Regions from separate parts of the Homo sapiens genome. Here region 2 is linked to region 1. The links come from fine-mapping of genetic effects on gene expression. Tissue or cell type: whole blood. Region 1 holds a variant in brackets; the other region holds the start of a gene. All regions are shown on one strand. Distances are from middle to middle.

Region 1 (8,000 bases):
AATACAAAATATAGTTGAAAGCTTCAACAATAGACTAGACCAAGCAGCAGAGAGAATGTCAGACTTGAAGACAGGTCTTTTGAAATAACCCACTCTAACAATGTTCCAGAAGGCAAGTGACTTATGTGGAAAGATTGGTACAATTCTTCCGCAACTATTTTTCTCCCCTCTCTGTGCTCTCCCCTATCTCTGCTCTCCCCTCTTTGCATTTTTTGGAGAGGCAGCATGTGTCTGGTTAAAAGTGTGAATTGTGGAGCCAAACTCCCTAGGATTAAATCTCAGCCCCATCACTTATACTAGCAATTAAACATTGGGGAATTTCACTTAATCTTCCTGCTTTAGTCTCCGAATTTGTAAAATAAATATAATAATGTTCACTTTATAGGTTTATTATGAGGACTAAGAATATTTGTAAAGTGCTTAGGACAATGCCTGTTTATGCCTACTTAACTGAGTTCCTATTTCCTATGCCTGGCACATACTAAGGATGATATTAGTATTTCTTAAATAAATATCTCTCCCAAATAGAGGGGAGAAACAGTCCATGAAAGAATAGGTTCTCTTTCTTATCCTCGTCTCTCAATCTTTCTCTCCAGCTTTCTCTCCAACTTTGCCTCTGCTTCTTATTTGCTCAACATTTACTGAGCACCTTCTGTGTACTGGATACTATTTTAAACTGTTGATTACATTTGAATTATAAACACACTGCCCTTATCTTCTTACCATATAATGAAACAAATCAGCACTTGGGCAGGCTATGACAAGGCAACAAGATGGAGGAAGAGGAGGGAAAAGCAGAATGCAAGCTGTTCCCTCTCTCTCTCTTTTGAAGAAAATAAACTAAGAACTTTACCCGTCAAAGTAAGGGAAGAGCTGGCTATCTTTTATTAGAAAAGTTGAGAGGTTTCAAAGTGTTGTTCCTACAGTTAACTTAAAATCGTCTGGTTTTAGTTAATTCTAGCCAGCAGGGGGCAGGAGTGTCCAGCTGTGTGAACCCAGTTATTCTGATCTTTCCAAGACTTCACTAAAGAAAAAGTGCTTCCAACTTGATGTACGGGAGCTTCAAATTCTTAAGCTATACAATTGGTGCACAGAAAAATGATTATTGGTATTAACGTGTTAAAATTGGTAAATAGGAATACATTTCTACTGATTTTGATGGTCGATTTGACTGTCGTTTTCCCACAAACATTTGGTCTCTCTTCAAATCTCCAGGTAACAAAAATTTCTGCCTTTACATTCCTCAGATAATCTCAACTGAGGACAGGGATGTAGGGAAAACACAGATTCTCAAGACATCAGGCCTCCCCAACTGGGCAACCTTGGCTTGTTATTTAACCTCCCTGAGTTTTTGCTTAAAAAGTCTGTAAAGACTAGGCTGAAGTCCCACTTTGGACCATCCAGGGAACCGCATCCTTTAGGGAATGGGGCTATTATGAGGATGTGTCCAGGTTGACACTGAAGGGCTAAGTCACAGGTATCACCTTGCTCTCTGATCTTTTGGGTTTCTGCACTCACAGCTGCTACAATAGGGGCCCATGCAGTCCTAGAAGTCAAACCCAGCTCAGAATTTTGTTTAAAAGTTTTGCTTCTGGTATGTTTCCAGGAAATTTACATTGTATTTCTTTGTTTAATAATGGTTTTATAAAAGATACAATTTTCACTTTCTACACAACATATACCTTATCATCTAACATTTGCAGTGCTTTTTACAGTTCTTATTTGTGCTTTTTAAACTTTTCTTAAGGCAAACAGGCCTGTTTGCTTTAAGAGTACAGAGAAGAGCATTCTTCAATTTTCTGTTTTTATTTTTTAGTTTCTTCTTAAACCTGAGTATTTTTTTTAATGTTGAAAACAGTACAGGTTCAATATAAAGCATTTGAATGATCACGGTTAAAAGCAAAAATTGTCTAATATCCCACCAACCAGTGATAACCAGCATTAATATTTTGCTGTTTATCTTTCTGATCTGCTGTCTCTGTCTCTTTTTTAAATTTAACTTTTATTTTAAGTTCAGAGGTACATGTGTAGGTTTGTTATATAGGTAAACTTGTGTCATGGGAGTTTGTTGTACAGATTATTTCATCACCCAGGTATTAAGCCTTGTACTCATTATTTTTCCTGATCCTCTCCCTCCTCCCACACTTTGCCCTCAAATAAGTCCCAGTGTGTGTTCTTTCTCTCTATGTATCCATGTGTCTCATAATGAGAACATGTAGTATTTGGTTTCTGTTCTTGTGTTAGTTTGCTAAGGATAATGGCCTCCGGCTCCATCCATGATCCTGCACAGGACATAATCTCATGGGGTTTTTTTATGGCTGCATAATATTCCATGGTGTGTCTGTACCACATTTTCTTTATCCAGTCTACCACTGATGGGCATTTAGGTTGATGCCATGTCTTTGCTATTGTGAATAGTGCTGCAGTGAACATACATGTGCATGTATTTTTATAATAGAATGATTTATATACCTTGGGGTATATACCCAGTAATGGGATTGCTGAGTCAAATGGTAGTCCTGTTTTTAGGTCTTTGAGGAATCACTACAATGTCTTCCACAATGGCTGAACTAATTTACACTCCCCTTTCTCCCACAGTCTCAACAGCATCTGTTATTTTTTTACTTTTTTTTTTTTTTTTTTGAGATGGAGTCTTGCTCTGTCGCCCAGGCTGGAGTGCAGTGGTGCGATCTCGGCTCACTGCAACCTCCGCCTCCTGGGTTCAAGCGATTCTCCTGCCTCAGCCTCCTGAGTAGCTGGGATTACAGGTGCATGCCACCACATCTGGCTAATTTTTGTATTTTTAGTAGAGACGGGGGTTTCACCATGTTGGTCGGGCTGGTCTCGAACTCCTGACCTTGTGATCTGCCTGCCTTGGCCTCCCAAAGTGTTAGGAGTTGGGATTACAGGCGTGAGCCACTGTGCCAGGCCCTTTTTTTTTTTTTTTTTTTTTTTGAGACAGGGTCTCTCTCTGTTGCCCAAGCTGGAGTGCAGTGGCACGAACTCGGTTCACTGCAGCCTCAACCTCCTGGGTTCAAGCAATTCTCCCACATCAGCCTCCCGAGTAGCTGGGATTACAGGGTGTGCCACCACACCCGGCTAATTATTTTTTTGACTTTTTAATAGTAGCCATTCTGACTGGTGCGAGATGGTGTCTCATTGTAGTTTTGATTTGCATTTATCTAATTATCAGTGATGGTGACCTTTCTTTCATATGATTGTTGACTGCATGTATGTCTTCTTGCGAAAAGTGTCTGTTCATGTCCTTTGCCCACTTTTTAATGGGGTTGTTTGGTTTTTTCTTGTAAATTTGTTTAAGTTCCTTATAGATGCTGGCTATTAGGCCTTTGTCACGCACATAATTTGCAAAAAAATTTTTTTCAATTCCGCAGGTTGCCTGTTCACTATGTTGATAGTTTATTTTGCTGTGCAGAAGCTCTTTCATTTAATTAGATCTCATTTGACAATTTTTGCTGTTGTTATAATTGCTTTTGGCATCTTCATCATGAAATCTTTGCCTGTTCCTATGACCAGAATAGTATTGCCTAGGTTGTCTTCCATGGTTTTTATAGTTTGGGGTTTTACATTTCAGTTTTGATTCATCTTGAGTTAATTTTTGTATATGGTATAAAAAAAGGGTCTAGTTTCATTCTTCTGCATGTGGTTAGCCAGCTATTCCAGCACAACTTATTGAAGAGGGTGTCCTTTCTCCATTGCTTATTTTTGTCAACTTTGTTGAAAATCAGATGACTGTAGGTTTGCAGCTTTATTTCTAGTTCTCTATTCTGTTCCACTGGTCTATGTGTCTGTTTTTGTATCAATACCATGCTGTTTTGATTACTGTAGCCTTATAGTATAGTTTGACATTGGGTAATGTGATGCCTCTGGCTTTGTTGTTTTTGCTTAGGATTGCTTTGGCTATCCAGGCTCTTTTTAATTTCCACATGAAATTTAGGATAGTATTTTTAGTTGTGTGAAAAAAATGACATTGATAGTTTGATAGGAATAACTTGAATCCGTAGATTGCTTTGGGCAGTATGGCCGTTTTAATGATGTTCATTCTTCCAATTAATGAGCATGGAATGTTTTTCCATTTGTTTGTGTCATCTATTATTTCTTTTAGCAGTGTTTTGTAAGTCTCCTTATAGAGATCTTTCACCACCTTCGTTAGATGTGTTCCTAGGTATTTTATTGTTTGTTTTTGTGGTTATTGTAAATGGGATTGCATTCTTGGTTTGGCTCTCAGCTGGAATGTTATTGGGGTATAGAAATTCTACCTACTTTTGTACATTGATTTGGTATCCTTAAACTTTATTGAAGTTGCTTATCAGTTTCAAGAGCCTTTTAGCAGGGTCTCCAGGGTTTTCTGGGTATAGAATCATATTATTCATGAAGAGATATAGTTTGACTTGTTCTTTTCTTGTTTGGATGCCTTTTATTTCTTTTTCTTGCCTGATTGTTCTGGCTAGCACTTCCAGTACTATGTTGCATGGGAGTAGTAAGAGCGACCATTCTTGTCTTGTTCCAGTTCTCAAAAGGGAATGCTTTCAGTTTTTGCCTATTCAGTATGATGTTGGCTGTAGGTTTGTCATAGATAGCTCTTTATTATTTCAAAGTA[T/C]GTTCCTTTGATGCCTAGTTTCTTGAGAGTTTTTATCAGATAGAAGTTATAGCTTTTATAGAAAGCATTTTCCGCATCTATTAAGATGATCATAAGGTTTTTGTTTTTAATTCTGTTATGTGATGAATCATATGTATTAATTTGTGTATGTTGAACCAACCATGCATTCCATGAATGAAACCTACTTGATCTAACTTTTTGATGTACTGATGAATTCAATTTGCTAGTATTTTGTTGAGGATTTTTCTGTCTGTGTTCATCAGCAATATTGGTCTGTAGTTTTCTTCATTTGTTTTATCCTTGTCTAGCTTTAGTATCAGTGTGATGCTGGCTTCATAGAATGAGTTAGGGAGGAGAACCTCCTCCTCAATTTTTTGGATTGGTTTCAGTAGAATTAGTACCAGCTCTCTTTTGTATATCTGGTAAAATTCAGCTGTAAATCTATCTGGTCCAGGGCTTTTGTTAATTGGTTGATTTTTAAATTACTACTTCAATTTCAGAACTCAGTATTGCCCTGTTTAGGTTTTCAATTTCTCCTTGGTTCAATCTTGAGAGATTGTGTGTTTCCAAGGATTTATTCATTTCTTCTGTATTTTCTAGTTTGTATGCATAGAGGTGTTCATAATAGTCTCAGAGGATCATTTGTGTTTCTGTGGAATTGGTTGTAATGTCATCTTTGTTGTTTCTGATTGTGTTTATTTGGATCTTCTCTTTTTTTTTCTTTTGATAATCTAGATAGTGGTCTATCAGTCCTGTTTATCCTTTCAAAGAACCAGCTTTTGGTTTTGTTGATGTTTTGTATGAATTTTGGGGTCTCAATTTCATTCAGTTCAGCTTCGATTGTAGTTATTTCTTTTCTTCTGCTAGCTTATGGTTAGTTTGTTCTTGCTTTTCTAGTTTCTTTAGGTGTGATATTAGATAGTTTGAGATATTTCTAATGTTTTGAGGTAGGCATTTAGACCTATAAACTTTCCTCTTAAGACTGCTTTTGCTGCACTCCAGAGATTTTGATATGTTGTGTTTCTGTTATCTTTTATTTCAAAGAATTTTTAAATTTTTGCCTTAATTTCATTATTAGCCAAAAAGTCACTCAAGAGCAAGTTATTTAATTTCCATGTAATTGTGTGGTTTTGAGAGATCTTATTGCTATTGATTTCTAGTTTTATTCCACTGTGGTCTAAGAGTATGGTTGGTATGATTTCAATTTTTTTGAATTTATTCAGACTTGCTTTATGGCTGAGCATGTGGTTGATCATGGAGTATGCTCTGTGTGCAGATGAGAAGAGTGTATATTCTGTGGTGGATGAGTGGGGTATTCTGCAGATGTCTATTAATTCCAATTCATCAAGTGTCGAATTTAAGTCCAGAATTTCTTTGTTAGCTTTCTACCTCAACGATCTGTCTAACACTGCCAGTGGGATACTGAAGTCCCTCGTTATTATTGTGTGGCTGTCTAAGTCTTTGCATAGGTGTAGAAGTAATTGCTTTATGAATCTGCGTGCTCCAATTTTGGGTGCATATATATTTAGGATAGTTGAGTCTTCTTGTTGAATTGAACCCTTTATCATTATATAATGCCCTTCTTTCTACTTTTTCACTGTTGTTGGTTTAAATTCTGTTTCATCTGATATAAAAACAATAACTTCTGCTCTTTTTTTGTTTTCTGTTTGTGTGGTAGATCTTTCTCTAACTCTTTACTTCGAGCCTGTTGGTGTAGTTACCTGTGAGATGGGTCTCTTGAAGACAGCAGACAGATGAGTCTTGATATTTTTATCCAACTTGCCACTTTGACTTTTAAGTGGGTCATTTAGACCATTTACCTTTAAGGTTAATATTGACATGTGAGGTTTTGATCCTAACACAAATTTGTTAGCTGGTTGCTTTGCAGTTTCTGTTGTGTGGTTGTTTTATAGGGTCTGTGAGTTATGTACTTTAGCGTGCTTTTGTGCTTTTATTTCTGTTTAGAACTCCCTTAAGGATTGCTCATAAGGCTGGTCTAGTGACAATGAATTCCCTTAGCACTTGCTTGTCTGGAAAATATTTTATTTCTTCTTTGCTTATGAAGCTTAGTTTGGCAGGATGTGAAATTCTTGGTTGGAATTTCTTTTGTTTAAGAATGGTAAAAATAGGTCCCCAATCTCTCCTAGCTTTTAAGGTTTCTGCTAAGAAGTCCACTGTTAGCCTGATGGGGTTCCCTTTGTACATGATCTGACCTTTTTCTCTAGCTGCTTTTAAGATTTTTTTCTTGCCGGGTGCAGTGGCTCACACCTATAATCCCAGCACTTTGGTAGGCCAAGGCGAGTGTATCACAGGGTTAGGAGTTCAAGATCAGCCTGACAAACATGGTGAAACCCCATCTCTACTAAAAATACAAAAATTAGCTGGGGGTGGTGGTGCATGCCTGTATCCCAGCTACTTGGGAGGCTGAGGCAGAAGAATCGCTTGAGCCTGGGAGGTAGAGATTGCAGTGAGCTGAGATCACGCCACTGCACTCCAGCCTGGGTGACAGAGTGAAACTCTGTCTCAAAAAAAAAAAAGGATTTTTATCTTTAGCAATGACCTTGGACAGTCGTGACTATATGCCTTGATGATGTTCACTTTGTATAGCATCTTTCAGGTGTTTTTTGGATTTCTTGTACCCAGATGTCAATGTTTCTGGAAAGATTAGGGAAATTATCTTAAATTATTCCCTCAAATATGTTTTCCAGTTTGTTTGCTTTTTCTCCTTCTTTCCAGAATTCCATACTTCATACCTTTGGTCGCTTTATATGCTCCCCATATTTCTTGAAAACTTTATTCATTTTTTTAAATTATTTTCTTTATTTTTGTCTCGCTGGATTAGTTTGAAAGACAAGACTCTGAAATTCTTTCTTCTGCTTGGTTTAGTCTATTAATAAAGCTTTCAATTGTATTTGAAATTCCTTAAGTGAGTTTCTCAATTCCAGAAACTCTGGTTGATTTCTTTTTAGGATGTTTATCTCTTTCTTCATTTCCTGGATTGCTCTAGAAGTTTCTTTGTGTTGATTTTCAATCTTATCTTGGATCTAATTGATTTTCCTTGCAATCCATGCTTTGAATTTTTTTATCTGTCATTTCTGAGTTTCCATTTTCATTAGGAACCATTACTGGAGAGCTGTGTGAACTTTTGGTAGTGTCACTACATTCAGATTTTTCATGGTGCAAGAATTCTTGTGCTGGTTCCTACTAATCTGGAGACACTGGTATTTCTAAGTTTTGTAAATTTTTTTTTTTTTTTTTGACAGAGTCTCACTCTGTCTCCCAGGCTTGGCTCACTGTAACCTCGGCCTCCCAGATTCAAGTGATCCTCCCACCTCAGCTTCCCAAGTAGCTAGGATTACAGGCATGCACCACCATGGCCAGC
Region 2 (8,000 bases), 250 kb before region 1:
TAGGATGTTAGGTGCCAATTTTGATATTGCAAATGATTAATCAGTCTGAGAGTACAAATGCAAACATGGAAAGGCTGGGGTAAGTACAAATAATCTTAATCTTCTGATTTTTAAAGCTTTAGAAGTGTTTTTAATCTCCTTTCCTGGTTATTTTGGTTTAGCACTTTACACAAAAATCTTAAATTAATTGTTCATTTGTCTTAACTTATATGCCTAATAAAGCAGTTTAGGAGTGTTAATTGACAACTCTGAATGTTGATGTTTAAAACAATCTAGTTGAGAAGACAAGAATCAGATAATTATCATTCAGTCAATAGTAACTGAAATTCATCCTGTCCTGTGTGAAGGACCCTGCTACACTACCAAGTACTTTGGGGACACTTCAGAGTAAAGGTTGCTTATGAGTTTGCTTTGTGTGTGTGTGTGTGTGTGTGTGTGTGTGTGTGTGTGTCTGTGGTTTTTAAGGTTTTTTTTCTCCACGAACCATTTTGTAAAATCCAAGAGGGGATTTCATACTCACAAAAAGATAATTTTTTCCCTCTCTCTCTCTTATTGCCATAATCAAACTCACGCAGCAAAGGTGAAGAGAGACTAGCCGCTGGAGTAACATTACTACACATTTGATTCCAAACGCTTCAGGCAATTGTTTAACACTCGGTCAGGACGTGGAATACTCAATAGGGAAGCCTCGCGTCCACCCAAAGGCTCTACGAGCGTCTATGGTTCTTCCTTTTCAGACAGGATAACTCAACCTGCAGTTCTGAGAGAAATAGGGCGACGGATCTCAAACTTTCCTTTGCAAAGCCAGTTTCTGAAAATAACACGTTCCCCCATTGATAAGTGAAGATCAGTAGCCTCAAGAAAACAATACTTGGTAGGCACCTGGCCTTTCAGAATTGAAGGGGGAAGGAATGGCAAAGCAGTTAGCAGAAAACCCGGGTACTAGTAGCAAGATCCGGGAGACATCTAACCGGAAAGAAATAAAAAACCATTAGTTTCCCGAAGCCATTCTTATTCTGAACGCTGTTCGTTAAGAGAATCATTTACTAAAGCTCTCTTGTAGTAGCCTTTACAAAAGCTTTATTTCATTCAGTAAGAAAGCGCCCCGTCCCAAATCTAAATAAACCTTACATAGATGAGGCTCCGGAAATTATCAGCTTGATTCTTTATGAAGATAGTTAGAGGTGGATAAATCAATAGACTCGCTGAAACACCCACCTTCTGCAAACAGGCCTGAGAATTAACTAATCAGAAGTGGACAAAAAGTAGGGATTTCAGAAAGATGACCTGACACATCCCATTGATCTTCCCTGGAATGCGACCCCCAACTCCTTATTAAGAGTCCAAAATGGTTACCAGCCAGGATGGGTCTGGGTGAGGAATCGAATTACAACCCACTTCAATCCTCGACCTGGTCGTTTGCTGTTATTAGGAGAAATGGGGCAGAGAGGGAGGGCACCGCTCACGGAGCCTCATTTCGCATGCTCCGATCCCCTCTCGGCGTCCCTCTACTCCGCCCCTACCCTGACCGCCCGCGAGGGAGACGCCGGCCGATGGACCCGCATCTGCCCTCACCTCTCGCCTTCCCCGGGCGATCCCTCTACAGTCCCGGACCCCCGAGAAAGGGGAAGGGAGACGTGTGCACACGGGGGCTTCCGGGACCGCGGTCCTGCAGTTGCCGCTCCGGTCCCCAGCGCTGGCCGGCGACCCGAGGCGCGGCTCGCACCTACCTGCAGCCCCGCTTCCCGGTGGCGGCAACACCTAGCGATGCTCCTGCAGCTTTTGCGGGCCGGCGCCAGCCTTATCGCTCTCGCATCGCTTCCAAGATGCCAATCCGCCGTCACCATCCAGGGGCATAGGGAACCGAAGTCTGGTGCTGTGTGATCGTGGAGGGCGGCGTGTGAGTGTGGCCCTGAGCGTGCGAGTGTGCGCGCGCGTGTGTGGATGTGTTTCCTCCTCCGATGGCAAAGACGGTTCAGGAATCTGACATCCAAGCTGGAATCCCCCTGAAGCGGGTGAAGGTGAGCCTGATCCTTCTCCCCGCTTCTTTATTCCACAGTGTCAAAGTAATCAAAAGATTTGTTTACTGAGGAAAAGCCAAAGTCCCGCAGCCCTTGGCAGCGCCCGCGGTCGCCTCCTGTCCTCGCCGGATGCGCGCGGTGCGCTCAGCTCCCTGGACTGCAAGAATCAAGGCGGTCTTGCTGCAATTACCGCTCTTATTCCATCTCTGATTTGTTTGCTTTTAAGGCCGACTAAAGACTTTTCCTCTCGCCTCACGTCGTCTCTCCCTCTCACACACACACACACTCACACATCCTCCGTTCCCTCTCTCCCGCCCTCCCTCTTGTTCTCTGGGGAAAGGCAATTGGACAGAATGATTCACCTTCAGGAAAGCAGCCTCGGCCACGCACTTCTCGAGTTCCCTGGCTCTCGCAGGTACCGGGTCTCCAACGTGGCGGAGTTGCTGGGAAGCTCGGGACAGGAAGGAGGAGAGGCTCTGAGCTCAGCCGATGTCCCCCCTCCAGACGCCCGCGTTCCTCCGTCCAGGTGCCCCTGTTCCCACTGCTCGCAGATAGGTCCCCGCTGGTGCCCTCGCGGAGACTTGGCGCCTTCCACTCGAATCCACTTAGCAGCAACTCCTGGCCAGCTTCAGCCCCTCAATCCCGCCTCGAAGTGCTGCGGGCAGAGCCCCACGCAGCCCACCCGCTGCCCTTCTAGGCATCGTGGGCTGGAAGGAAGGGAAACCCGCCGATGTCCCCCTGGTAGCAGTGCCCTGGCACCGTCACCACCGAGGAGGTGCGAGTTCCAACATCGAACACAAGCGAGCAGGTGTCGCCTGTGTCACTTTGCTAAAGGCGGGAGGGGAGAAAGAAAGGAGCGGGGGGAGGGGGCCGAGGAAACAAATCCAGATCACCGGCGGAGAAAGAAGCCGTTTAGCAAGCAAAGCCTCCTCTCCGCGTCCCACCCCAGATGCTATACTGTCAAAAGACACTGATGCTAATCTTTTAGAAAGTCGCCATAAAGGGCAGAGCCCCTGCTCCACTCTAGAACCCTATTCCACCCAGCCTGGCTGTCCAGTGAGTACAGAGTGACTTGGCTCCCCCGTATAGTGCAGCGAGAATGCAGGAGAATAGGTCCTGACACTCCAGGTTGAGTTAAGCAGTAAAATGGAATGGCAGGGCCGGGCGGCGTTGCCTCGCCTCTCTCTCCCAACAGCCAGTTCTGTTAGCCCCAGCAACTGCCGTTGAGAGCAAACAACGGTCCTGCAGAAAAAGAACGAGACAGTAAAAGATGAGGAGGCAACTGGTATAAAAGCTGGACTATGTCTCCCTCTAGAGGGTCAACCGGATTAGAACGCTTTACTAGATGTAACAGACCAGTTTCTCTCCATAAAGAAAAAGAAAAAAATATCTGGTTTCAGATAATTTGCATTTTTACAAATTACAACTTCTCAAGGATTTAGACGGAGGATTTTCACTGCAGCCCTATTAAGCAAAGCCCTTGCTAAAGGAACGTCGTGATATTCATGACGCTGGAAGGTCATGTCCTTACATGTTTGGTCAAATTGGGTGTCGGTTTAAGCGCTGTGCATATGAGCTCAAATGAAGGGTCTTCTGAGGCTCACTTCGATCATGTTTGGAGATGAGCAAAACCTTAATCTAGTGATTAGAAGACTATTCAAAAATGAATAATTAGTAAGAATGAATTCAGAAAAAGAAAATCTGAAACAAAGAAAGGGAATGCTGACCCAGGAAATTTTACAAGTCCTTTACAAGGAAAGATAACTCAAGAATCTGGTTTTGGAGCCAGTTTTCATACCTCTTTTTCAACTAGACCAATAATGGTCAAGATAGCTAAATTCCTTCCAGCTCTAAAGGTCTGTGCTTTTATATAGCTGTGATTCACTGAAACCATTGACAAATTAGGTATCACAAGCTCTCTTCACCAGCTATAAAATAAAAGTAATACTACATACCATATTTACAAAGAAATATAGAATATGTGCTTCACTTAGCTATTTTATCTTAACATGCTTAGTAAATCAACCATATTTTGTATCTAAAATGCATCAAGTAATTTAATTATGTTGAGGTGGTCATTTTTATAAAAAATAGCTCCACCGATTTTATAAAGTTTTGTTACATCAGTCCAAATCAAGCTAGGTCCCATCTGTAACCTTAACATTTAGATTTTTGTGAACTTACTATTTGAGCTGGGGGTTTGCTTTCAAAATGTTTCTGTATGTTCAAAAATTGTAAAATGTGTATTAAAGTTATTATTAAACACCCTTCCATTCACTCTGAATTTCTGGAGCAGTTCTATTTTAACTTGATAATCTAAATTAGCACAGTCATAAAGAAAGAAAAGAATGTATTTTTTAAATAGCTGAGACTAGTTGAAATCATTTAAAACAAAGCACCAAAACTAAACAAGGCAAGTTTTACCGTAACTAATTGCTCTATGGCATATTTGACTTTGTCTAGTAGTATACAGCAATCATTTGTTTCCAAGGATCTCTCAGATAGTCTCTTTCAAAAGATTTATGCCATGTGATTAAATATTTCATTCCACTTACATAGTAACTTATATCCAGGAAAGCAACGTTTACATTTTAAAACACCTGGCACTGTTGCACTGCAAATCTTACAGTATTTTTTTGTCTGCTGTGTTCAATAGTGTGATGAAATTCAAGCAGGAATGACATTGGAAACTTGGACTCTGTACTAGAAAGAAGTCACTTACAAAATCACTTTAGAACATTGGCTTTCTTTTCACACACACACACACACACACACACATACAAAAAAACATAAAGCATACATTATAATCTTTCTACCTTCTAATTCATTAACTTTTTGTGGTTGTAATCTATAGTTTTGTCATCTTGTTAAAATTTTATTTGTATTGTTTAAGTGTGGGACATTTTCAGCCTTATTTTTCTAACTAAACCCACTGTGTTTTTACAATATATGAAAAAGTAAAGAGAACAGATATATAAATTAATTACAAAATAGAACAAAATTTCTTATCCAATGTCATATGATGCTGAAATTCTATCATAACCTCTGTGCTTTTTGTAAATAATTCCCAATAATTTTTAGATCAAGATATTCCTATTTCCAGCATCTCCTAGACAAAATAAAATCTTTTGCATTCTCTTCAAAGGAAACAAAGTAGTAAAGATTCTCCTAATTTAACAGAAATTTTTTGTTGATACTTCTTACCTTCTACAGGCATGCCTCAAAAATGTTGCAGGTTTGGTTCCAAACCACCACAAATATTGCAATAAAGTGAGTCACACAATTTTTTTGGTTTCTCAACACATGTGAAAGTTATGTTTACACCATACTGCAGTCCATTAGGTATGCAATAGCATTTTGTCTTAAAAATGTACATATCTTACCTTGAAAATGGTTTAATGCTTTTTTTAAAAAAAGTGTACTGATGATCTGAGCCTTCAGTGATTCCTAATCTCTTTGCTGATGGAGAGTCTTGTTTCAGTGTTGATGGCTGCTGATGGATCAGGGTAGTGGTTGCTGAAGGTTGGAATTGCTGTGGCGATTTCTTAAAATAAGACAATAATGAGGTTTGCTGTGTCAATTGACTCTTCCTTTCACAAAAGATTTCTCTGTAACATGCAATGCTGCTTGATAGCATTTTATCCACAGTAGAACTTCTTTCAAAATTGGAGTTAGTCCTCTCAACTCTGCCACTGCTTTATCAGTCAGGTTTATAAAATATTCAAAATCCTTTGTTGTCATTTCAACAATATTCACAGCATCTTCACCATGAGTAAATTCCATCTCAAAAAAAACTACTTTGCTCATCCACAGAAGCAACTCTTCTAGCATCTAGAATGGTGAATGATCTCCAGAAGCTTTTCAATTTACTTTGCCCAGATCCATCAGAGGAATCATTATCTATGACAGATGTAGCCTAGCAAAATATATTTCTTAAATAAGAAGACTTGAAAGGCAAAATTACTCCTTGACCTATGGGCTGCAGAACAGATGTTGTGTTAGCAGGCATGAAAACAACATGAACCTTCTTGTACATCTTCATCAGAGCTGTTGGATGACCAAATGTATTGTCAATAAGCAGTAGTATTTTGAAAGGAATCTTTTTGTGAAGCCAGTAGCTCTCAACAGTAGGCTTAAAATATTTAATAAAATATGCTGTAAACAAATGTGCTGCTATCAGGCTTTCTTTTTCCATTTATAAAACACAAGCAGAGTAGATTTATTATAATTCTTAAGGGCCATACGATTTTCAGAATAGCAAATGAGCATTGGCTCCAACTTAAAGTCACCAGCTGCATTATCCTCTAACAAGAGAGTCATCCTGTCCTTTGAAGCTTCGAAGCCAGGCACTGACTTCTCTCTAGCTGGGAAAGTCCCAGATGTCATCCTCTTCCAATATAAGGATGTTTATTTACATTGAAAATCTGTTGTTTAGTGTATCCACCTTCATCAATGATCTTAGCTAGATCTTCTGGATAACTTGCTGCAGCTTCTACCTAAGCACTTACTGCCTCACCTTTTACTCATGTATTATGGAGACAGCTTCTTTCTTTAAATCTCATGAACCAACCTCTGCTAGTTTCAAATTTTTCTTCTGAAGATTTTTTACCTTTCTTTCAGCCTTTATAGAATTGAAGAGAGTTAAGGCTTTGCTCTGGATTAGACCCTGGCTAAAAGGAATGTTGTGGCTGGTTTGATTTTCTATCTAGACCACCAAAGCTTTCTCTATGTCAGCAATAAGACTGTTTTGCTTCCTTATCATTGTGTGTTCACTGGAGCAGCACTTTTCATTTCCTTCTTGAACTTTTCCTTTGCATTCACAACTTGCCTAGCAGTTTGGCTCAAGAGGCCTAGTTCTCAGCTTTTGACATGCCTTCCTCCCTATTAAGCTTTTGATTTAAAGTGAGAGACATGAGACTCTTCCTTTCATTTGAACACTTACAGACCACTGTAGGGTTATATTAATGGGCCTAATTTCAATATTAGGTCAGGGAATAGGGAGACCCCAGGAGAGAGAGGGAGTTGGGGGAACAGCCAGTTGGTGAAACAGTCAGAACCACACAACATTTATTAATTAAGTTTGCCATCTTACATAGGCACAGTTCATTGCATCCTAAGACAATTATAATAGTAACATCAAAGACCAGTGATCACAGACCGCCATAACAGATACAAGAATAATACAAAAAGTCTGAAATATTGTGAGAATTACCAAAATCTAACACAGAGACATGAAGTGAGCACATGCTGCTGAAAAAATGGCACTGAGGGACTTATTCAACACAGGGTTACCACAAACCTTAAATTTGTAAAAATAAAAGAAAATAATAATAATAAATAAAAACAATATTTGCAAAGTGCAGCAAAGAAGGGGTCTCCAACCCCCAGGGACTGGTACCCTCCCTGTTAGTAACCCAGCCTCACAGCAGGGGTGAGCTGTGGGCAAATGAGCATTACCGCCTGAGCTCCATCTCCTGTCAGATCAGCTGCGGCATTAGATTCTCACAGGAGCCTGAACCCTATTGTAAACTGCACATGCAAGGGATCCAGGTTGTGCGCTCCTTATGAGAATCTAATGCCTGATGATCTGAGGTGGGATGGTTTCATCCCGAAATTATCCCCCACCAACTGTCCATTGAAAAAAATTGTCCTCCATGAAACCGGTCCCTGGTGCTGAAAAGGTTGGGGACTGCTGCAATAAAGTAAGGCACAACAAGCTGAGGAATAGCCATATTTGTTTAAATTGCCATCCTCCTCAAGTCTAAGCAGTAAAAAATAATTTCTTTAAACACTGAACTTAACTGGATTGTAACTCTATCATAGCTTTCCATGTTCTGTTCGCTAAAAATCACTTTGGTGCACTTCAGGCTTTTTCTTTTTTGCCTTTTATAGAAAATTACTTTATTGAAGTATAATTGATATACAATCAACTGCATGTATTTAAAGTGTACAATTTGATGAGTTTTGACACATGGGTAT

The links. PIP is the estimated chance that this variant, and not a neighbour inherited with it, causes the effect.
Region 2: it holds the start of TAFA2, and the variant in region 1 is fine-mapped to the expression of TAFA2 in whole blood (INTERVAL, PIP 0.99).

The regions. Positions count from the first base shown.
Region 1 is chr12:62,437,351-62,445,350 of GRCh38, forward strand. No RefSeq gene overlaps it. Among named protein-coding and RNA genes, the nearest start is that of MON2, 25 kb to the right of the region's middle. The variant T/C (reference allele first, on the strand shown) is at 4,619.
Region 2 is chr12:62,189,529-62,197,528 of GRCh38, forward strand. It overlaps TAFA2 (TAFA chemokine like family member 2), which reads right to left and starts at 3,245. Exons shown (of 5, transcript NM_178539.5): 1 at 1,731-3,245. RefSeq lists an enhancer at 2,637-3,170 and a silencer at 4,540-4,834.